7 separate regions of the Homo sapiens genome follow, and all the other regions are reported to be linked to region 6. The links are microRNA targets in miRTarBase. Many come from high-throughput screens and were not tested one by one. Region 6 holds a microRNA gene; each other region holds the end of a gene's coding sequence.

What was found. The annotated mature microRNA hsa-miR-6855-5p reads UUGGGGUUUGGGGUGCAGACAUUGC and lies in region 6 at 824-848, shown strand. An mRNA with a match to its seed (bases 2 to 7 or 8) in the 3' UTR can be bound and repressed. Matches are read on the target gene's strand: a 7mer-m8 pairs with bases 2 to 8, a 7mer-A1 pairs with bases 2 to 7 and ends in A, and an 8mer does both.
Region 1: the mRNA of LYRM7 is a reported target of hsa-miR-6855-5p. Seed matches in the 3' UTR shown: 7mer-m8 at 1,062-1,068.
Region 2: miRTarBase lists TNRC6A as a target of hsa-miR-6855-5p. Seed matches in the 3' UTR shown: 8mer at 1,603-1,610.
Region 3: miRTarBase lists OTUD6A as a target of hsa-miR-6855-5p. Seed matches in the 3' UTR shown: 7mer-m8 at 1,977-1,983.
Region 4: the mRNA of ZFP14 is a reported target of hsa-miR-6855-5p. The part of its 3' UTR that is shown has no 7-base or 8-base seed match.
Region 5: the mRNA of ZRANB3 is a reported target of hsa-miR-6855-5p. Seed matches in the 3' UTR shown: 7mer-m8 at 1,145-1,151.
Region 7: miRTarBase lists SOCS5 as a target of hsa-miR-6855-5p. The part of its 3' UTR that is shown has no 7-base or 8-base seed match.

The regions. Positions count from the first base shown.
Region 1 is chr5:131,199,109-131,202,204 of GRCh38, reverse strand. LYRM7 (LYR motif containing 7) reads right to left here. Exons shown (of 5, transcript NM_181705.4): 5 at 1-2,674. The coding sequence ends at 2,604. Among named protein-coding and RNA genes, the nearest start is that of LYRM7, 30 kb to the right of the region's middle.
Region 2 is chr16:24,823,217-24,826,312 of GRCh38, forward strand. TNRC6A (trinucleotide repeat containing adaptor 6A) reads left to right here. Exons shown (of 25, transcript NM_014494.4): 25 at 216-3,002. The coding sequence ends at 591. Among named protein-coding and RNA genes, the nearest start is that of SLC5A11, 21 kb to the right of the region's middle. RefSeq lists an enhancer at 1-96.
Region 3 is chrX:70,062,733-70,065,828 of GRCh38, reverse strand. It overlaps OTUD6A (OTU deubiquitinase 6A), which reads right to left. Exons shown (of 1, transcript NM_207320.3): 1 at 1,650-3,096. The coding sequence ends at 2,438. Among named protein-coding and RNA genes, the nearest start is that of OTUD6A, 1.8 kb to the right of the region's middle.
Region 4 is chr19:36,337,561-36,340,560 of GRCh38, forward strand. It overlaps ZFP14 (ZFP14 zinc finger protein), which reads right to left. Exons shown (of 5, transcript NM_020917.3): 5 at 1-3,000. The coding sequence ends at 2,664. Among named protein-coding and RNA genes, the nearest start is that of LINC00665, 7.3 kb to the left of the region's middle.
Region 5 is chr2:135,197,541-135,200,636 of GRCh38, reverse strand. ZRANB3 (zinc finger RANBP2-type containing 3) reads left to right here. Exons shown (of 21, transcript NM_032143.4): 21 at 197-3,096. The coding sequence ends at 295. Among named protein-coding and RNA genes, the nearest start is that of SNORA40B, 62 kb to the right of the region's middle.
Region 6 is chr9:129,868,787-129,871,882 of GRCh38, forward strand. It overlaps MIR6855 (microRNA 6855), which reads left to right and starts at 819; the gene lies at 819-885. USP20 (ubiquitin specific peptidase 20) reads left to right here. Exons shown (of 26, transcript NM_001110303.4): 12 at 76-216; 13 at 524-639; 14 at 886-1,058; 15 at 1,667-1,761. RefSeq lists an enhancer at 1,434-1,933.
Region 7 is chr2:46,759,648-46,762,732 of GRCh38, forward strand. SOCS5 (suppressor of cytokine signaling 5) reads left to right here. Exons shown (of 2, transcript NM_144949.3): 2 at 1-3,085. The coding sequence ends at 494. Among named protein-coding and RNA genes, the nearest start is that of LINC01118, 55 kb to the right of the region's middle.

The sequences.
Region 1 (3,096 bases), not on the chromosome of region 6:
CTTTATCTAATTAAACTATTAAATAACCAGTTAAAATCCATTTGAAATATAAATATATGATTATAAGAATAGGCAGGGTGCAGTGGCTTACACCTGTAATCCCAGCACTTTGGGAGGCTGAGGTGGGAGGATCAACTGAGCTCAGGAATTTGAGACCAGCCTGGCCAACATAATGAGACCTTGTCCTTACTAAAAATAAAAAAAATAGCTAGGTGTGGTGGCGCATACCTCTAGTCTCAGCTATTTGGGAGGCTTAGTTGGCATAACTGCTGAGCCCCAGGGGTCAAGGCTTTAGTGGACCATGACCATGCCACTGCACTCCAACCTGGGTGACACAGCAGAACTCAATCTCAAAAAATAAATAAATAAATTAGCATATGCTATATAAGAATAGAGTGCGACATCTTTCAGAATTTTGTGACAGTCAAGCCTGTTGTTGACATGTTTATATACTTCACAGGAACTTTATTTATTTATTTATTTTTGAGACGGAGTTTCACTCTTGTTGCCTAGGCTGGAGTGCAATGGTGCGATCTCGGCTCACTGCAACCTCCGTCTCCTGGGTTCAAGCAATTCTCCTGCCTCAGTCTCCCGAGTAGCTGGGATTACAGACATGTGCCACCACACCTGGCTAATTCTGTATTTTTTTTAGTAGAGACAGGGTTTCCCCATGTTGGTCAGGCTGGTCTAGAACTCCTGACCTCAGGTGATCTGCCTGCCTCGGCCTCCCAAAGTGCTGGGATTACAGGCGTGAGCCACTGCGCCCAGCCAGGAACTTTCAGGAACTTTATTGTGTAGTCTTATGGCATGAAAGTACAATATCATATCTACCTATCTGTATCAATATATCTTTTTTTTTTCCTTTTTCCTTTTTTTTTCTTTTTTTTTTTTGAGACAGAGTCTCACTCTGTCCCCCAGGCTGGAGTGCAGTGGCACAATCTCAGTTCACTGCAACCTCCACCTCCCGGGTTCAAGTGATTTTCCTGCCTCAGCCTCCCGAGTAGCTGGGACTACAGGCGCCCGCCACCATACCTGGCTAATTTTTGTGTTTTTAGTAGAGATGGGGTTTCACCACATTGGCCAGGCTGGTCTCGAACTCCTGACCTTGTGATCTGCCCGCCTCAGCCTCCCAAAGTGCGGGATTACAGGTGTGAGCCACAGCGCCCGGGCCTATATCAATATATCTTAAAATTTCTAAGCCACTATCTTTAATAAACATGTGAATTATTAATCTCATCTGCTACTAATAATGACTATAAGAAAGAAATCTGGAGTTATTTAAATTAATATGAATGAAAAATGGAACAGGGAATTCAGGTTAAAGAAAAAAGCTCAGTGATAAAATATTCAATAACACTAAAATATAGAATATATATTAAATTTAAATAACGTCAGCCAACTTTCCTCAAAATATGTCATATAGACACTAAAATAACTGTAAGTCAGCACATTTATATAGTGATTATATACTGCGATGACATTCAGCATTCTCTTAAAAGGGCAAATTTCAAATTTGAAACGACTTTCATTTTTCTCTAGGTATAATTTCTAGATACATAACAATGCTTGCATTGAGAATCTTGCAAAAATTAAAAACCCTGTATCATCATCAAATGAGAGAATTTATCAGTGAATGGGAGAAAACATACTATTCACTGAGAAAATAGAATGGCAAAGATACACAGATAAAAGAGAAACAAGAAGAATATTAAACAGTATTTTACAGTTCCTAGTGTTAGATGGTAGAATGCCAGGACCTTTTGTGATACTGCCCATCTTGTCAAGGACAGGACATGTGGAAGAAGAGAAGCCATTTAAGTTTCATTAATTAAAACGATGAGAATGTAGCCACCGATTACATTTCACACTAAAGTCTAACTTTGTCTAAATACAGCTAATTCTACTAAGGCCATATTAAATAGTTTGATCAAGGGCCACTATTTCCTCTTTAAACTAGGATTTCTTTATTCCATAGTGACCCTAGGTGACTATAATATTTTATTCATCTATTTTCAGAAAACTGATAAAAAATGTCTTCATAAGAACACAGAGATACTCTCTATCTCTAAAAAGAAACTGTACAATTATATATTAGCTACAGAAATAATCCCAGTGCTTTAGAAAACAAAGGCCACTTTCTGTAGAGAGCTGGCATACACTGTGATTTTTTTGACCAATTTAATATTTTTCAGGACTAAATATCATTTTAATCTAACAATTTAAATGTAATAATTGCATTTCACATGGCAGGAAAACTCACCAATTTGTAAAAGCACCACATTCTCAAATAGCTATGGTAAGATCAAATACTCATCAAGGTCAAAGATTGAATATATCTCCCTAAGCATTTACTTTGCTTTATGAAATTTGATTTTCAATGAAAATGAAATGTTTTCTTATCTAATTTCCTTTAGAAATACTTAATTATGTTCTTTAGTTCTCAGTAATGACCTTTTAACATGAAATTTAAATATGAAGCTATTCTGTAATTCATTCATTTTCAATATGCCAGTTCAGGGAAAATGTCTGCATTTCCAGGACTTTTGCCAGAGTTGTAGATTTTAAAGTTAAAAAGTACAAAGACTTGTTGTATTCTAGAAAACTCATTGCTTCTGAGTTGGTGCATCACAATATGGCACATTTTCTACAAGAAGGTCTTTCCTAGGGACCAGTTCTGAAAGAAAAAAAAAAAAGAGAATAATTAACATCACTAAAATTAGAATTAAATGCAAGGACACTCATTTCCCCCTAAAATTTAAAATAGTAAAATATCCAGTTTTAAGATAAATCTTCCAGGGATATTTTATTTCAGTTGATATCTAAGGTGGCATCCTTGACTCTAATTAGAATTAATAGCATTCTCATTTCAGATTATATAAAAACATATATGATCCACTTAACCCTTTATCATTAAATATAGCAAATCAAATAACTGAAGAGAATTCAGCTAAAACTTCTATTATTGGTCATTTAATTACCAATTACTGATAATGAAAACAACTGGAAATTTTGCTTATACTATCTACTATATGAAAAGCAAGACTGGTCTCCTAATTTAAAGATTCTAAATTTTAAATAACAATTGTTCTTAAAAGA
Region 2 (3,096 bases), not on the chromosome of region 6:
GACAGAGGAAGTTCGCTCTGGGCAAGGCACCAGGCCCTGGAGAGCTGTGGGTGCACACTCGGGTGAAGGGAGGGCACGCAGGTTATGTGGTGTAGTCTCTCCCTCTGTGCCTTCTGTGGCTTTTCTAGCAGAGACAAGTTGCACCCTCACTTGTGAGTGAATGAAGCCCTCCTGGTGTGCTGTCCTCACGTGTCCGCGGTGCCTCTCTCCTCTAGGTGTGTACTGGGGAACACTACTATTCTTGCTGAGTTTGCCAGTGAAGAGGAGATCAGTCGTTTCTTTGCACAAAGCCAGTCTCTGACCCCTTCTCCCGGCTGGCAGTCTCTCGGGTCCAGCCAGAGCCGGCTGGGCTCCCTCGACTGTTCCCACTCATTCTCCAGCCGGACCGATCTCAATCACTGGAATGGTGCTGGGCTGTCGGGAACTAACTGTGGAGACCTTCACGGCACTTCACTCTGGGGGACCCCGCATTATTCCACAAGCCTGTGGGGTCCCCCAAGCAGCAGCGACCCCCGAGGAATTAGCAGCCCATCTCCCATTAACGCTTTTCTTTCTGTTGACCACCTGGGTGGGGGTGGAGAGTCCATGTAACAGTGTAGATGCAGACTCACCGACCGGGACCTCAGACGCGAGGGAAAGGAGCACTAAGTGGGGCTCGCCGCCTGCAGCCAGGGGCCGCCTGTGGGAACAGCTATTCTCTGCACATTTTCCACTTTGTTTTCCCCAAAACATATCAGTTTGAATACTTGAATCATGCAGGCCAATATTATAATGTGAAAAGGTATCTACTCTATTTACACTCCCAAATAGCGCCATACATGCTAAACCGTAGAGAATGAGCTCGCTTGTGTCTATTCATCATGTTTAGCCTTTGGATTCTTTTTTTTTTTTTCCTTCTATTCCTCCCCAACCCCCCCCCCCGCCCCTTTTTTTCTCTCTTGCAAAACCATTTTTTGGGCTGATAACGTATGAGCTTTTCCCTTTGCACTGAATGATGTTCTCTCCGTCTCATCGGCAGTATGGGGGGCAGCTGTCCCAGTGTCAATGTTTACTCAAGGGTGTTCTTAGGAGGCGTGCGCTCTCTACTATGCCTTGATGTTGCCTACCTTATTGTGGTATCGTGGAGTTTAAAAGATCAAGTTAGGATGCTGACTTAGGATTATTAATGAAAGTGTTGCACCAGTTTTTTCATGTTGTAAAACTAAAGAATTTCGCTCTGCAGTTTGAAAAACTGTGGCCACAGCTGTGACTTGCAGCCCACCTGCCACCCAGGACGGGCCCTGCACTTTGAATAGGCTTTCCATTTTGTTTTGGAGGTTCTCACTTTGAACCTTCTTGTTTACAGATTTTTTTGTTTGTTTTTTGAGAAAAAAAAATGTTTACTCTTCCATCATTTAAAAAAAATGTAAAAGACAAAAAAAAAATGGAGGATGATTTAAAAGATGCTTTCTATCTCTGGGAAAAAGGAGCAGCATTTGGCCATGTTCTTTTGTTTTTCTATTCCTGTCCCAAATCAAAGAGCATGGTTCTCAGGAAAACCAGTTCCCCAGTTTAAAAAAAAAAAAAAAAATTCCTTGTAGTTTCTTAGAGGAAAAAAAGAAAAACCCCAACTTTTAGCACTGATACTACATATTGCTCTGTTAAAGAATTTTCTCTGCCAAAAAAAAAGAAAAAACAAAAAAACGCTTAAAGCTGGAGTTTGACATTCTGCTTTCAGATGCTGTCTTTTTATTAGTGAGTGATGATGGTTTGCTAATAATCAATAGGTAATAATTTTTTGTAATCCCATCAAGTGGCTCCATATGTTTCTGCTCTCTCGTGACTGTGTTAATGTTTAACTGTTGTACCTTAAAGCCGAAATCAGTAACTATGCATACTGTAACCAAGGTATTGGGCTTACAGAGTTGTTTGTTGTATAAAGAAAATTTTAAATGTTGTTGCAAACTAACGAGTTACACCATTTTAAACTTTCTTTCCTCCCCCCTTTTTTTGCCCACAAATGGTATTATAATGCTTGCTTAGTCAAAGAAGAGAGACTAAACAAGGGTAAAAATTTTAACAGTACAGAATTTGCCATCATATCATTGCCTTGATTCTAACTGTTTGTGTCCTAAGATGCAAAAGAAGTCAGTGGCTTTTAACTGTTTACAAATAGAATGTGATTGTAAAATGTACAGTTTGGTTGTGTTTGAATTATGAAATTTCTTCAGATATAATAAACCATGACTTTTTGGCTGCTCAACATTAATTGTCTCCTTTTTGTGAATTTATTTGTAGGCTCTTTTTTATAATGAAAGTTTCAAAGTTGCTATGTATGAGGGTTCTCATAGAGCAACCGATTAAAAATCTAAGCAAATATTTGAACATTTTATCTGAACTCATCACAATTTCACCCTGAAATAATGTGAGAACAATGGGAAACTGTAGCTTGCTCCTTCCCACCCTCTCTGAGCATCTTTGGGATCTTGTTGCTCAAAACTCTTCTGTGACTTCATCTTCCCCACCATTTGTGCCCATCTCAAGCCTCAGCAAGAAACCATGTGGAACATGAAGCTTAATGACTTGACAGTGTACTAGTGTTAAACTCTCATACCTCTGTTACAAAGCGAGAAACGCCACACCCGGACTGGCCTTTTCTTCCCCCTTCACGGCCCTCGCTTCTCCCTGCAGGAGCTCGGGGGCGAAACCTGTGTATGGATTTCAGTGTATGACTTCAGATCATGCTCCAACTTGCCAGGTGTGAGCTAATGTTGTCGGACACCTTACTATAAGCAAATGTTATTCAGTGCGTTCAATGTATATTGACTTCCATACTGGTTTTTCCAAAAACCAAAGGTAGCTTTGAAAAACCATGTCTGGAAATGTTTGGAGCGTTAAGCTGATTGACCTTCTGACCTTGGGGCTTTGAGTAGTATATAATTCATAACTGCGTTAATTGTATTGTTAAAGTGTTTGGGAGTTTTTTGCGCTTGTTATGTGGAAATAAAGTGTTTGATTTAAAATTTTTTAAAGTGGTTTGGATCTTTGCCTAGTCCTTAAATAAATACAGCTCTATTCCCTAAGCCACCCTTACTTCTCGGTCTTAATCCCGACTGC
Region 3 (3,096 bases), not on the chromosome of region 6:
AGACCCGTTGCTACGAGGCATCTTGTCCCTTTGAGTTGCCCCCTGGTCAGCCTATTCCTCCTTGTATAGACAGTGACTCTTTCTTGACCCAGCCCCCTTTCCTGCCCTTCTCTCCACCCAACTCCACCCCTGCCAGGACCCCTTCCCCAGACTGTAGCCCAGTTCCCAAACAGCTTCCCTTCCCAAGCCAGGCCCCCTTCCTCTCCTTCTCCAGCCTGCCCCAGCTGGGCCACCTTCTCCTACCAGGAACCCTTCACCAGTCCATGCCCCAGCCTCCAGCCTGGACCCTTTGCAGGCATCCTCCCTCAGCCAGGACTTCTTTCCTAGCCTGTGCCCCCGCTACCCAGCTGGGCCTCTTTGTCCATGAAGGTCCCCTACCCTAGCCAGGCCTCTTCTTTTAGCTTGTCACCCCCTTCCCTGACCCTATGCAGCCCACTGAAGTAGAGCACCTTTCCCATTTCTAGAGCCCTTCAGCAGTCTTTGCCCCTGTCCCCAGTCAGCAACCACCACCCCGCCACCCGCAACAGGCCTATGCTCCCTAACCCTCCAGGATTCCTTTGCTTAAGTAGATCCTGGGATATAAACTCTATATGAAGTTAGCTACACAAAAACAGAGAAGCAGGTATTTTTTAAATGGTTTTTATTTTTGAACAAACTACATGTTTAAAAACTTTCAAAAACATATATATTTTATCTTAGAGCATTTGGAATGTAGAAAGAATTTCCAAAATTAATCTCACTGAATTACAGAAAGTAAAGATTAAAATTTTCATAAGTTGTTGACTGTAAATCATTTCATTTTATATTCTTTTGGAAAATTCAAGGATATTAACAAGTCTCAAATAACAAAAGTATATTGTTCACTTTTGATGTAACAAAATAGAATAAAACTTTAATATTTTAAAGAATCTTTTTAGATATTTCTGTATCTCTAAGAAATAAGGAAAGTTGTTACATTCATATCTTTCACACTTCATACCAGATGATATAACAAGGTCAATCAAGTACTTGAATAAATTCATACACCTTTATATCTCTAAGAATAAAGGAAACTTACTCGATTCAGATCTTCACCCCTTAGAGTAAGTAAATTACCTATCAATGTGTCTCTTTTTTCTTTATACCAGTTGTAAAGATAATGAAACGTATCAACTATTTGAATAAAGTCCTATCTCTTCCTACCTTTAGTAAAGGAAATTAAGTTCAGATCTTTCACATCTTAGAGTAAACCTTATCTAGCCTATCAGTTTATCTAAATTTACTTTATCTATTTAACAGATTTACCTTACATGTTTTAACAAATGCTGTTATTTAGAATTAGCAAACATGGGAGAAACTAAAATTAATTAGGAACCACACAAGTTTTGATGAAAAGAAAACAAAACAAAGTACTAGCGGATCTCTTGTTCATAACTTGAGACATCTCCTGAGTAGTCTAGCTTAAGTAAATAGCAAACCATGGCAATCTTTCCCCCCAAAACTCAGCAAAAGGCCTTCACAAGGCATTTTGATCACATAAACTCCAATTTTGTCTAAGTAATCCAAGACATTCATAGGAAAACCTGAAGACTCCCCGAGCTAGTCTACTAGATTTATTTTTCCCAGAACACATGAAACTTAACATTTCCTTTTTTTCTTTTTTTTTTTTTGGAGACGGAGTCTCGCTGTCTTCCATGCTGGAGTGCAGTAGTACGATCCCGGCCCACTGCAGCCTCCGCCTCCCGGGTTCAGTTGATTCTCCTGCCTCAGCACCCCAAGTAGCTAGGATTACAGGCCCCCGCCAACCTGCCTGGCTAATTTTTCATTTTTTTGAGACGGAGTCTCACTGTCTTCCACGCTGGAGTGCAAAGGCACGATCTCGGCTCACTGCAACCTCCGCTTCCCGTCAAGCGATTCTCCTGCCTTAGCCTCCCGAGTATCTGGGACTACAGGTGCCTGCCACCACGCCCGGCTAATTTTTGTATTTTTTGTAGAGGTGGGGTTTCACCATGTTGGCCAGGCTGGTCTCGAACTCCTGACCTCGTGATCCGCCCGCCTCGGCCTCCCAAAGTGCTGGGATTACAGGCGTGAGCCACCGCGCCCGGCCAATATTTCCATTTTTGTGGTGAAGTTATACGCAACATGACCAAATCTTAGTTGGTGAGGGAGGTAAAAGACCCTTAAGGGCAAGAAGAGGTTAGAACTTTCAAATTTATGCCCCTCTGGTGGTGCAATGCAGAGATTTCCCTCATATTTCCGGGGAATTTCCCTCGAATTTCGTTTCCCACCCTGTGAAAGCAGCAAGGTTAGGAAAGCGGGGGCGGGGCGGGGGCGGGTAGTTTTGATTAAAAGGAAGGAAAAGAAAAACAGAGAAAAGCAAAAGGGGAAAATAAACTGAGCCTACTGAGGAGATGCGGCGACGGCGACAGTTTCCCGGGGCTGCTCAGCGCCTTGGGGCCTACAGGAGACGCGGGAGCACGCCCCCGGCGGCGCCGGCCTCGAGCGGTGTCACGGAGTTGTAGTGCTCGCCGAGGCTGTAGGCATAGCGCAGGTAGACCAGGATGATCGGCTTCTTGACGTACTCCTCCCCGATGATCAAGGTGGGCGAGTCGGCCTGGATCACCTCGATGGGGGTCTTCAGGACGTGCGACAGGGCCCTCAGCTCCAGCTGGCCTCCCCATGCCGTGGTGCGCACGATGTTGTCGCAGTAGATCATGAAGTCGTCGTAGCCGAAGGAGTCGCTGGTCTCGGGGTTGCTGAAGAAGGGCAGGAACTCGTCGACGTGCTTCTTCATGTAGCTGGCGGTGCGGCAGCGCAGCATCTCCACAGACACGCTGAACACCAGCTGGTCTTGGATGGCGCGGTACATGCAGTGGCCGTCGGCCGGGATCGCTTTCATCTCCAGACCCCTGGCTCCCAGGATGGCGGCGAGCTTCTCCTCCTCCTCGCGCTTGAAGCCGGCCAGGTGCTCCGACATCTCAGCCTGGAAGATGCTCTCCTGGCGCTCCCTCTCCTCGGACTCCATTCTTTCTCTCTTTCTGTGGGCTTTGGAGGAGCGGGGAGGCCGGTTTTCCAGATTCATCTTGGCCAGGTCTTCGACGACAGATTCAATGCTAC
Region 4 (3,000 bases), not on the chromosome of region 6:
TATGCCATTTTATACAAGGGACTTGAGCATCCTCAGATTTTACCATCAGTGGAGGATCCTGGAACCAATTCCCCATGGATACCAAGGGATGACCATATACTGTTCATCTAGTCCCTGTCTGCTTTCAGTTCATTATTCCAGCAATAAGGCTTTGTAGATGGTGGTGTGGACTTCCTATTGCATTACGTCAGGAAGTGTGTTGTCTGATAGACCCATTTTTATTAAGGTTAAAACAGATCAAAGGGTTCAGAGGTGGCCAGTTTGATAGATCCACCATAAAAATCTCGCTATAAAATATTTCACCTATTAGTTGTAGTACCCATTGAAGATCATGTTTTCTGGACCCATTATTCCATTAAGGTCTAGAAAATGGTGATTTTTCTAATCCTCTAATTCCTTCTAGATTTATTAGACTTCTTCAAAAAAGAAAAACCCATTCAAAAAACAAATTTTTTTTTTGAGACAGGGTCTCACTCTGTCACCCAGGCTGGAGTGCAGTGGCACGATCTCAGCTCACTGCAAACTCTGCCTCTTGGGTTCAAGTGATCCTCCCACCTCAGCCTGGGACTACAGGTGTGTGCCACCATGCCTGGCTAAATTTTGTATTTTTAGTACAGACAGGGTTTCACCATGTTAACCAGGTTGGTCTCAAACTCCTGGCCTCAAGTGATCCACCCACCTTGTCCTCCCAAAGTGCTGGGATTACAGGTGTGACCCCTGTGCCAGGCCAAATTCATTTGAATTTGATGAACTTCTGGTGACCCTGAAATTTGGTTCACATGGGAAAAGGAAACTAAATGACAATTTTTCCTCTGATTTATTGATTTCAAGAATAATGAGTTGGGCTGGGTGTGGTGGCTCATACCTGTAACCCCAGCACCTTTGGAGGCCAAGGAGGGAGGATCACTTGAGCCCAGAAGTTCAAGACCAGCCTGGGCAACATAGTGAGACCCTTTCTCTAAAAAAAAAAAAAAAATTTAGGTGGAAGAATCACTTGAGCCCAGGAGGAACAGGGTACAGTGAACTGTGCTTGTACCACTGCACTCCAGCCTGGGGGACAAAGTGACACCCTGTCTCAAAAAAATTATACATTGGTGCTCTAGCATCTTTCATAGGTTACCAAATTATGCAGCCACAATCAAGTAAACTATCAAATTATTGGTGGGATCACATCAAAAACTCAACTTGAAACAACTCCTACTGGTTGAAGATATGGCATTTTGAGCATCCAAAAGTATACTGACTTATAGAATGATGTTTTGTTTCTTTCCCACAGGAGTTTTATACACACACATAAATATACACAACAATATTAAATTCCTAGGTGGTTAATTTCTTTTAAGCCACATTTTTGATAGTTTCTAATTAATTTTAAACTGTGGTCAGACAACAGGGATTGTAAGCCTTTTGCTTTCTGGAATTATGGGAAAATCATTTCCTATTTCCCTCTAATTCTTCAACAGCTGTATTACTAGTGACCTCACATTCATGAAATTCATTTTTGGCATGAAATTTCTAATGCAGCTCAAGTGCTGAAGAACTTCCTACATTCACTACAATCTAAATTTTACCTAGAATAAATTATGTTTAATAATTTCTGAGAGGTGACAGGAGGCATTTCTACATTTATTATGTCTACAGATCTTCCTTTTACGTGAATTCACTAATACTAATGACAATAATAACAATTACAGATAATATTTACAGAATACATGCTATATGACTGTGATTCCTCCAAGTATTAACTACTTACTCCTTGCAACAATCCTATTCCACAGTGTGGCAGGCTGACTCTAAACAGGCCCCCCAGTGGTCCTGTCTCCAGGACTTATTCACACTCTTGTATCATCCCGTTCTCTTGAGTGTGGACTATCCTAGTAACTTACTTCTACCAGTAGAAGGTGAGGGAATGTTACTTCCATGATTAGATTACACAAGATGGTAACTTCCATCTTGCTAGCAGACTGTCCTCCCTTTTGGCTTGCATGCCTTGATGAAGCAAGCAGCCATGTTGATGAGGCTATTGTGGCCAGGAGCTGCAGTCAGCGTTCAGCCAACAGCCAGCTAGAAACTGAGAATCTCAATGCAACAGGCCTCACGGAAATACATTGGGTAACAACTATGTTAGTCTGGATGTGGATCCTTCCCCAGTTGAGCCTTCAGATGAGACCTCAGCCCTGGCTGAAATCTGTAGCCTTGCAAGAGACCCTGAAGCAGAGGACCCAACTAAGTCATGCCTATACTCCTGATCCAAATTATAAGATATAATTATATGTTATTTTATGCTACTAAGTCTGTGGTAATTTATTACGCAGCAATAAATAACTAATACATATAAGTACTATTATTACCATTTTACAAGTCAGCAAAATGAGGCACAGAAGCTTAGTATCTTGTCCAATAAATCAAACTGGTAATCAAGTGGAGAAAGGGAGATAATGACAGATAAGGCTAAAGATTTTCCTACATTCATTACATTATTCTCTCATAGGAATTTGCTGAAGATAAACCATGTTTAAATGGTGTTGGAAGGCTTTTAAATCAACATATTCTTTCTCTAATATAAAATTTATTATGCTTGGAATTGAGCATGAAACACATTTTCTCAAAAATGAATTTTCTGATGTTCTGTAACATCATATACATTTGAAGGCTTTCTTCTATTAAATTCCATTATGAATCTTCTGATGCTGAGTAAGGTGTGAATGCTGTCTAAAGGCCTTCTTACACTCCTTACACTTGTAGGGCTTCTCACCAGTATGAATTCTCTGGTGTTGAGTAAGAAATGAATAAAGTCTAAAAGCCTTACCACATTCCTTACATTCATAAGGTTTCTCACCAGTGTGAATACTCTGATGTTGGGTAAGTTGTGAGAGCAGTCTAAAAGGTTTTCTACATTCCTTACATTCATAAGGTTTCTCACCAGTGTGAATACTTTGATGCTGAGTAAGTTGTGAGAGCAGTCTAAAGGCCTTTCCACACTCTTCACATTCATAGGGT
Region 5 (3,096 bases), not on the chromosome of region 6:
ATGAACCTAGGACCTCAGGATCTCAGAGCTGCTGAGATACTCTGCCTTGTGGTTTGGTAACTCTTCCATAGCCAACCACTGGAAAATGGGTGTAGTGACTGTAGATTTTCCAAACTAACAATATAAAGAGTTTTTGAGCTTTTGTAGCCGGTGCTTTTTTCCTAACGTGTACACATGCATATTTTTTAACTTTTAGAGAACTGCCAGACAAGCTAAGGAAAGAAGCCAGGTGAGAAGACAATCTCTAGCATCAAAGCATGGATCAGACATCACACGATTTTTGGTAAAGAAGTAAAGTAGAAAAATATATGAATGAATGACAAATGGTTTACATGTGGAAGACTTTAATACAGAAGTTTTCCATGTTTGTTTAATATATCGAGAGTAAAAATTTTCAGAACAAAAATCAAGAATTCAAATTCTCTTCTACTAATTACTTTTAGTATTAAATACATTTTGAAAGTACTTAACAGAAACTAAGATACAATACTGAATATTTCTGTGGTCTTTTTGATTTGATTCAGACTCGCAATTATGTTTCAGCAATGTTTTGTAAAGCTCTTTACCCCTAATATGCCTAATCACTGTATTGTGCATAGATTGTGTTTAAAAAATGTACTCTCAATTACCTAAAAATGCTTCTGGATTAGTATTGTTCTGGACTGTCATAGGTATGAGTGGAACATTGCAAAACCTTATGGGAAATTTCAGACGCAAATCATTATTTGGGAATTCTGGGCCAAGCATGACCAGCCTGCTTAGGATTCAAGAGAGACTGTCCACTAAATACCTCCAGAATGAGCTAGGGGCACACATTTTGGGTGTTGCTTTTCTTGCTTTATTTCTTAGCTAGTCATCTTTATCAAAAATATCCTTTTCAAAATGAGGTACCTATGGTGTTTGTGGACAATTTGGGGGTTCTGTGTAAAGTAATTGTTAAAACTATTAAATAACTGAAAACATAAAATGTAAAATGCCACTTAAGCTTGATTTTTTAGATCTTTTTTTAAAAAATGAATAAAACTAGGCTTACTGTTGGCTGGGCGCGGTGGCTCACGCATGTAATCCCAGCACTTTGGGAGGCCAAAGCGGGTGGATCATGAGGTCAGGAGATAGATCGAGACCATCCTGGCTAATACGGTGAAACCCCATCTCTACTAAAAATACAAAAAATTAGCCGGGCATGGTGTTGTGCACGTGTAATCTCAGATACTCGGGAGGCTGAGGCAGGAGAATTGCTTGAACCCGGGAAGCAGAGGTTGCAGTGAGCCGAGATCACGCCATTGAACTCCAGCCTGGGCGACAGAGCGAGACTCCGTCTCAAACAAACAAACAAACAAAAAAAAAAACTAAGCGTACTATCAAAATACACTTTGTCTTCTGGTTCTCATTTTCTGTTTTTAAAACCCTGTGTTATTAAAGGTATGTTTCTGGTACTTATTTTAAAAAGAGTGATGATGACAAAACACTTTATAATAAGGCATAATCAGATGGTTATATGCATTTAAATATACAATAATAACATTAAAATGTAATTGACATAAAATAAGAGTGACGATGAAACAAACCCAGGGCCTAGTCCTGCAATATGTCAGAATCATGAGGGCAAAGAGTCAGAACTATACAAAATACAGGACCGAGGAAGAATTACATTCCCAAAAGGGAGCTGTTTGTAAATACTATTAGGACATATACCTCTTTAGTTTGAGCATTTTCCCACGTTAATTAATAGCTAGTGTTTTACAACATAAAGGACTTGTTTTTAGAAAGATTATACAATCAAAGATTATACAACCACAGTTGTTCCTCAGTTTCTATTTCATTGTATGAGATCAAGTCATGTTGGTTATTTTATAAATGAAGTTGGGCTTTCTTTGGCCTCCTTTCTGCTTAGTTGGTCAGGTGCTCTTTGCAGTTTTCTGCCTCATTTCCAAGGTAACCTAGGATTTGTCACGGTTGAGAGCCAAGAAGCAGGCACGCTGCCTTTCCTCCAGCATGGGGTTTTGCAAGCGAGGTCTAAGTAGGTCAAATTTGAGGGGAACTTGCTCTTCAGATCACACTAAGGTGATAATTCTAAGGAGAAAGTTCTCAGATGTAAGAACTGTGTGATGGTTTGAGGTGAAACAATCCATGAAGATAGGCTCAGTCTATACCAGGTTTCAGAATTCTGACTAATTAAAAATGCCGTAAGGAGCATTGAGCATTTGCTGTACAGGACACTGACTGGCCCGTCCCCATCCCTTCCTGACATGTCTCAGAGCTTTGTGTCCTGCCTTCCCCTAATTTGGTCTGCATTACTTGTGGGGCACATTGAGATGAAGGGTTCTGAGACAGAAAATAAAGATAGAGATTGATCTAATAACCGAGACCGAAAGGGCATCTTGAGGACTGTTCTTTCCTCCTCACAATCTGAAACAGAAGCTCCCCACTATGTATTGCAAATGGGAGGTTATGACAGAGGGACACAGAAAGTGTCAGAGCAAGTGGCAGATCCTGAGTGCAGAAGGAAGTGCAGATGCCCCAGGAAGAAGACAGCTGCTGCCACTCAGGAGATGGAGATGGAGTGAAAACACAGGTGGGTACAATGAGTGTAAAAGGATAGGCCTGGCTCTGAAAAGACTCAGAGAAGCTGCAAGATACAGTTTAGGCTAAGAAAACAACAACAAAAAAGGGCTCTGGCCAGGTATGATGGCACTTGCTTGTAGTCCTAGCTACACAGGAGGCTGAGGTAGGAGGGTCACTTAAGCCCAGGGGTTCATGACCAGCCTGGGTAACACAGCAAGGCCCCATCTCAAAAAAGAAAAAAGGCTCTGGGTCCAGGGAACAGAGCTGGGAAGTGGTAGGTGACGAAGGAACTCGCTTACGATAGGGAACCATATGAAAATATGCCTGTGGGTAGGGGTAGGGTGGGGAGGACTTCCGGAGCATGGTGGGCTCACACACTCAAACCTTGCACAGCCAGCATCAGGCTGGCCTGCCTTCCTGTTCCCGTCACTGGGTGACATTGATCCCAGACACATTCTGATGACTAGTAAAGTTGCTTTTAGTAGCCCCAGAGCCAGGAGGAATAATTCATATGGAATTTTTAAAGACGCC
Region 6 (3,096 bases):
GCAGGTCATCTTCCTGCCCACTCGTGGAGCTGGCCTGGCTGCCCTGGCCCAGCATGGTACCCTCTCTGCCCCCAGAGCCGGACAATGATGCTCACCTACGCAGCTCCTCTCGCCCCTGCAGCCCCGTCCACCACCACGAGGGCCATGCCAAGCTGTCTAGCAGCCCCCCTCGTGCAAGCCCCGTGAGGATGGCACCGTCGTACGTGCTCAAGAAAGGTTCGGGGGGCACGGGAGGGTGGGTCAGCTTGAGGCTGGGAGTACAGATTACGCCCGTAGCTGCCTTTCTCATGGCCCCCTGTGGCGGAGGGCCGGGCTATGGGCTCCTCTCAGGTACACCCCTGAGACACCAGTGTGGGAGCCACGTTTTGCAGAGGATGACACAGAGGCATGAGATGGTGAATTGCTTACCCAGTCATGTGACTCACGGATGTCACTCCACATCCTGTCAAAGGAAGCCGCAGGGCCCGCACCTCGCCCCGGCCAGGCAGGTGGAGGCTGGGCTAGTCCTGTGCTGTGTCCCCAGCCCAGGTATTGAGTGCTGGCAGCCGGAGGCGGAAGGAGCAGCGCTACCGCAGCGTCATCTCAGACATCTTTGACGGCTCCATTCTCAGCCTTGTGCAGTGTCTCACCTGTGACCGGGTGGGTGCCCCAGGGATGGGGGGAGCTGGGCCAGGCTGCCAGTGGCCTCAGCAGCTCTTGCCCTGACTGGGTGCAGGGTGGGCTCTCCACGGGTGCTCCCTGCTTTTATCCAGGGGAGGGCCCTGCCTGCGTGGATCCCGTGTCTATGGCCTGGGGAGTAGTCCCTCTGCCCCTCACCTGCTGCTTGGGGTTTGGGGTGCAGACATTGCCAGAGGATGGGCAGCAGACTGACCTTCAACCCCACAGGTATCCACCACAGTGGAAACGTTCCAGGACTTATCACTGCCCATTCCTGGAAAGGAGGACCTGGCCAAGCTCCATTCAGCCATCTACCAGAATGTGCCGGCCAAGCCAGGCGCCTGTGGGGACAGCTATGCCGCCCAGGGCTGGCTGGCCTTCATTGTGGAGTACATCCGACGGTGCGCCCACCTTGCCACTACTGGGCGACATGGGCTGGGCCTGTCCTGGTTTTCCTGGGCGGGAGACAGTACACAGTGAAGTCCATGCATTTGGGGAACCAGGGAGGTCCTGGGAGGAGCTGGGGGCCGAAGCCTGCAGAGGAGTTGGCTTAATATGCAGGGGATTTCTTGGCTACTTTGAAGTGGCCAGGATTGGATAGTCCCTTGGAGCTGGAGGGCGATGGACAGCAGGGAGGTGACCACATGGCAGGTTGAAGGGAGGGCAGCAGCAGGACACAGGCCTGGTTGGCGGGAAGGGCAGCAGCTTTCCCAGGGCTGCCTCTCCTGCCTGAGGCCAGAGACCCGCATGACCCCAGGGAGGGGGTAGCATGATCATGGCCGCAACACAGATGAAGGAGGCCAGGCTTGCGGAGAGATGATGTCACTCGGCCCAGGACACGGACGTGTCTGGCTCCAGGCCTCTGCCCCGACCCGCCGTGCCCGGCTGCTTCTCTGGGCCTTCAGGGTCCTTCTGCGGCTCAGGCCTGACAGACCTCAGCCAGAGTCCCTTCAGCTCCTGTTCTTGCCCAGGCCCTGGCAGCACCCCTGCACTCCTTTTCTGTCTGTAGGTTTGTGGTATCCTGTACCCCCAGCTGGTTTTGGGGGCCTGTCGTCACCCTGGAAGACTGCCTTGCTGCCTTCTTTGCCGCTGATGAGTTAAAGGGTGAGGGGCCTGGCTGGCAAGGGTCGGGGAGGTGGAGGGTTGTGGGGACGGGGATGTGCAGACCCCAGCAGGCCAGCATGCAGCCCAGGGCTTGTGGGATGCACAGCCAGGCTAGACTTGGCTTCCAAGGTTGATCCCATCAGATACCCACGCCCACTGCCAGCCACGCTGGACCAGGGCCATGTGCTATCCCAACCCCATCATCTTGCAGCTCTTGAGTGTTCACTTATTTTTATTTTTACCAATTTGGTGGGCAAAAATGATGTATGTTAATTTTTCATTTCCTTGATTACTGATGAGTTTCTACATTTTTTGTTAAATATACTGGCTCTATGTATTTATTTAAACATTGCCCATTCCTGTTCTTGTTCTTTTTCTCCGTTGGCTATTTGGCATCTAAACCTTTGGGAAAACTCTCTCTTTTTTTTTTATTTCCAATTTTCAATTGCGATAAAATACACAAAATGTAAAATTTACCACCATAACCATTGTAAATGCTGTTTTTAACAGAAAGTGCACAGTCGAGTAGTGTTAAATACATGCACATGGTCACGCAGCCATCCTCCCCATTCATCTCCAGAACTTTTACATCTTGCAAACCTGAAACTCAGTATCCGTGAAACAGCTCCCTACTCCCACCTCCCAGCCCCTGGCAACCTCCACATTCAAGTCTGTGAATGTGACTACTCTAAAGGCCTCATAGAAGTGGAATTATACAGTACTTGCCATTTTGTGACTGACGGCTTTTACTGAGCATAACGTCCTTAGGGTTCATCCACGTTGCAGCGTGTGTGTCGGAATGCCCTGCCTTTTGTATGCTGGTTATTTATTGTTCCATTGTGTGGATGGCTGGGGCCTTTCTGCTTATTCGTTCATCCGTCAGTGGACACTCAGGCCGCTTCCCTGTTAGCTATTGTGAGGAATGCTGCTCTGACCATGGGTGTGCACACCTCTCTTCTTTCATCCCTTTGGGTCTATGCCTATTTTTAATTTCTCGAGGAGCCACCGTACTGGGTTCCACAGTGGCCACCCCATTTCACATTCCCACCAGTGACGCACAAGAGTTCCAGTTTCTCCACATCGTCGTCCACACTCATTTTGTTTACTTTTTTGATGGGAGTCAACCTCATGGGTATGAGGTGGTATCTCATTGTGCGTTTTTTTTGTTTTGTTTTGTTTTGTTTTTGAGACGGAGTCTCTCTCTTGACGCCCAGGCTGGAGTGCAATGGCATGATCTCGGCTTATTGCAACCTCCACCTCCTGGGTTTAAGCGATTCTCCTGCCTCAGCCTCCCGAGTAGCTGGGATTACAGGCACATGCCACCACGGCTGGCTA
Region 7 (3,085 bases), not on the chromosome of region 6:
TGCTTCAAATTACAGGGAATCCCTGTTACTGGGGAGTGATGGACCGTTATGAAGCAGAAGCCCTTCTCGAAGGGAAACCTGAAGGCACGTTTTTGCTCAGGGACTCTGCGCAAGAGGACTACCTCTTCTCTGTGAGCTTCCGCCGCTACAACAGATCCCTGCATGCCCGAATTGAGCAGTGGAATCACAACTTTAGTTTCGACGCCCATGACCCGTGTGTATTTCACTCCTCCACTGTAACGGGACTTTTAGAACATTATAAAGATCCCAGTTCGTGCATGTTTTTTGAACCATTGCTTACTATATCACTAAATAGGACTTTCCCTTTTAGCCTGCAGTATATCTGTCGCGCGGTAATCTGCAGGTGCACTACGTATGATGGAATTGATGGGCTCCCTCTACCCTCAATGTTACAGGATTTTTTAAAAGAGTATCATTATAAACAAAAAGTTAGAGTTCGCTGGTTGGAACGAGAACCAGTCAAGGCAAAGTAAACTCTCCGGTCCCCAAAGGTTGTTAACTAGGTCCGCTTTCATGTGCATCAGACAGTACACCTATAGCAAGCACACGTAGCAGTGTTAGGCTTTTTCATACAGTATGTAAGCTTAGTGTTAGTATCTGTCAGATGCTACCTGCTGTTACTTATTCAGATAAACATGGTGCCTATTGGAACAATAGCGGATAGAGCTACAGGTGTTCAGTAAGACTACAAAAACATTTTGCCTATTTCGCTAACAGTTTGGTTTTTAATGGCTGTGGTATTTGAGTGAGGCAACTCTGGGGCATTTGTTATGAAGAATTCTATTTCTTACTGAAGAACAAATTATTAATATTGGATGAGTATTTCAACAGTGTGACTAATGTTTGAAATTATTTTTTCTAAGAGTTTTTCTATAACCTTCCAAAAGTCGTGATGTTTGTAGTTACTATAAATCAAGCTTTGGAAGTCCAAAAAGAATAAAAGACTGCCTTCCTTTTAGAAAAAAATGCAATTTTCTGGCCACAAGGGCATAGTGCAGTTCACTTACGTGTTGATGTAGTTTATAATCAGACGCCTTTTCTCTTCTGCAAAAGGTACTGTTAAGTAAACCAGATTTTCTAAATAGGCATTCTTAAAATTTCAGACTTACAAAGCTAGTAGTAGAATTTTATTGAAAGGCCTAGGTATTAATTTTTTAAATGAGTGCTTTAACTTAAAACAGGCGTTTGGAATAGCTGCTGCAATGTAGTCTTGTGTGTGATTTTTTTTTAAGTTGATGTGCAGTCTAATTGTTGTTTCATAAAAGTTGGATCTGTTCCTATGCCCAGGATGATTTTGTGAACCGTGAAGTACGTGAGACTAGAAGACGCCCAAACAAGTCAGATAATAGTAACTACAATGGTTGCTGATGTTGAGATTATTGTTGAACTATAATTAATAATTTGGATGGCAGAATTTATCTCTTTTTTGTAAACTCTCATAACTGAATTGCTTAAGTATAATTTATAGAATTTCAGTGCAGTTCATTCTTAATGGAAAATCTGAAACCTAAATTGCAGATTTAAAAGGTACTGTACAACCATTATATCTGTAAATAACTTAGCACCTTTTTGTCACTTAGAATAATATGTACTACTACTTGAGTGAGCGCTTTTGGAAGTTATATCAAGTTCTAGTGTTTGCTTCTTAGTAACTGAACTGAATTTACAGTTCTGTCCTAGACATTTTGCACTAAAGTAGCCGAATCCACTCTCATGTCTTTTCGTTAATGTGCTCTGTACCACTGGTGAGTGCTCCATAGTTTCCTTACCTGCTGCTACAGAATGTTATTTTACATCCCTATGGCTATTGCCAAGGCTACAAAAAAGGAAAGCTATATTTGTATGCAACACTAACCTTTTGACTGCTAATGTATGTTTCTGCTTGCTGTGCCTTGTTATGGCTGCTTTTTTTGTGCTAATAAAGTATGTTTGGTGTTCTCCTTGTATATCTGCTGTTTTATACATTTGCAACAATTTCTCTTGTAAATGGAATGGTTTGGGGTTTTTAAATAAGCATTAACTAACAACCTTTCTATAGTTAATGCAGAGTTAATGAACAGTCTAATATTGACTTATCAGAATAAGCTAACTCTAAATTTAATGCTCTACATCTTATCAGTCATAATTATATATACTGTGGAACAGTATCTGTAGTTACTGCAAATTACTGTACAGTTTAGGTTATAACAGAAAACTGACAGAGAAGTAATAAACCTATTGATTTCTCTGCTTATAAATGAAAGATTGAAACTATCCAATGACATATTATAGTAAATGAGTATCTGTAACCTCCCACTGCATCAGAAGCAGGTTAAATGAAGTCTTGTGAATTTGTAATAGATCAGTACCATTTATTGGTTTGGGGACCATCTTAATTAAAAATAAATGCCCAAAATGTAGAACTTTAACCAAAGACTTGTCCCTTTTAAAGCAAAATGGGGATTGAAGGGACTTATAATTTCTGTTGTTTCTAATTAAAGTCCCTGAAGATCATATACCAAAGTGTTTGAGAACTTCATCCAAACCTACTTTAAAGCATTATGTGCAATTAAGTTGTTATGACATAATTATATTGCCTAATTGTTGGGTCTTTTTTCTTGAGCTTATAATGTACCTGGAAAATAAACCTCTTGAGAAAAAGAAAAGTTCATACTGATTATTGGAAAAGGACTATATATGTGAGCAAGATTGTGTTTTAGAGAGGAAACTTGAAACTCCAAGAAAGCACTTGATGTTTTTATATGCTTGTAGCAAATTGATGTTCTAACTGTAGTTTTATAGAAAGTATTAATGCTTTTATGTATTTCAAAACTTTCATATGTTAAATGGAAATTGTTTTAAATGTGTTTGAGTTTATGTAAGCATGTATACACTGTGCTAAAAGTCACATGTTTCAGTTTGTGTATAATATTAATATGCAATTTTTGGTTTAAATTTTTGTCTTAAAATATTAGTGGCTTACATTTTAAAAAAGAAAAATCACCAGCATGAACTTGCACCTAAGTCTATATTCACTGTGTCCTTTTCTGAATCCCATTGTAGCCTGTCAACTAAATTTGAGTGT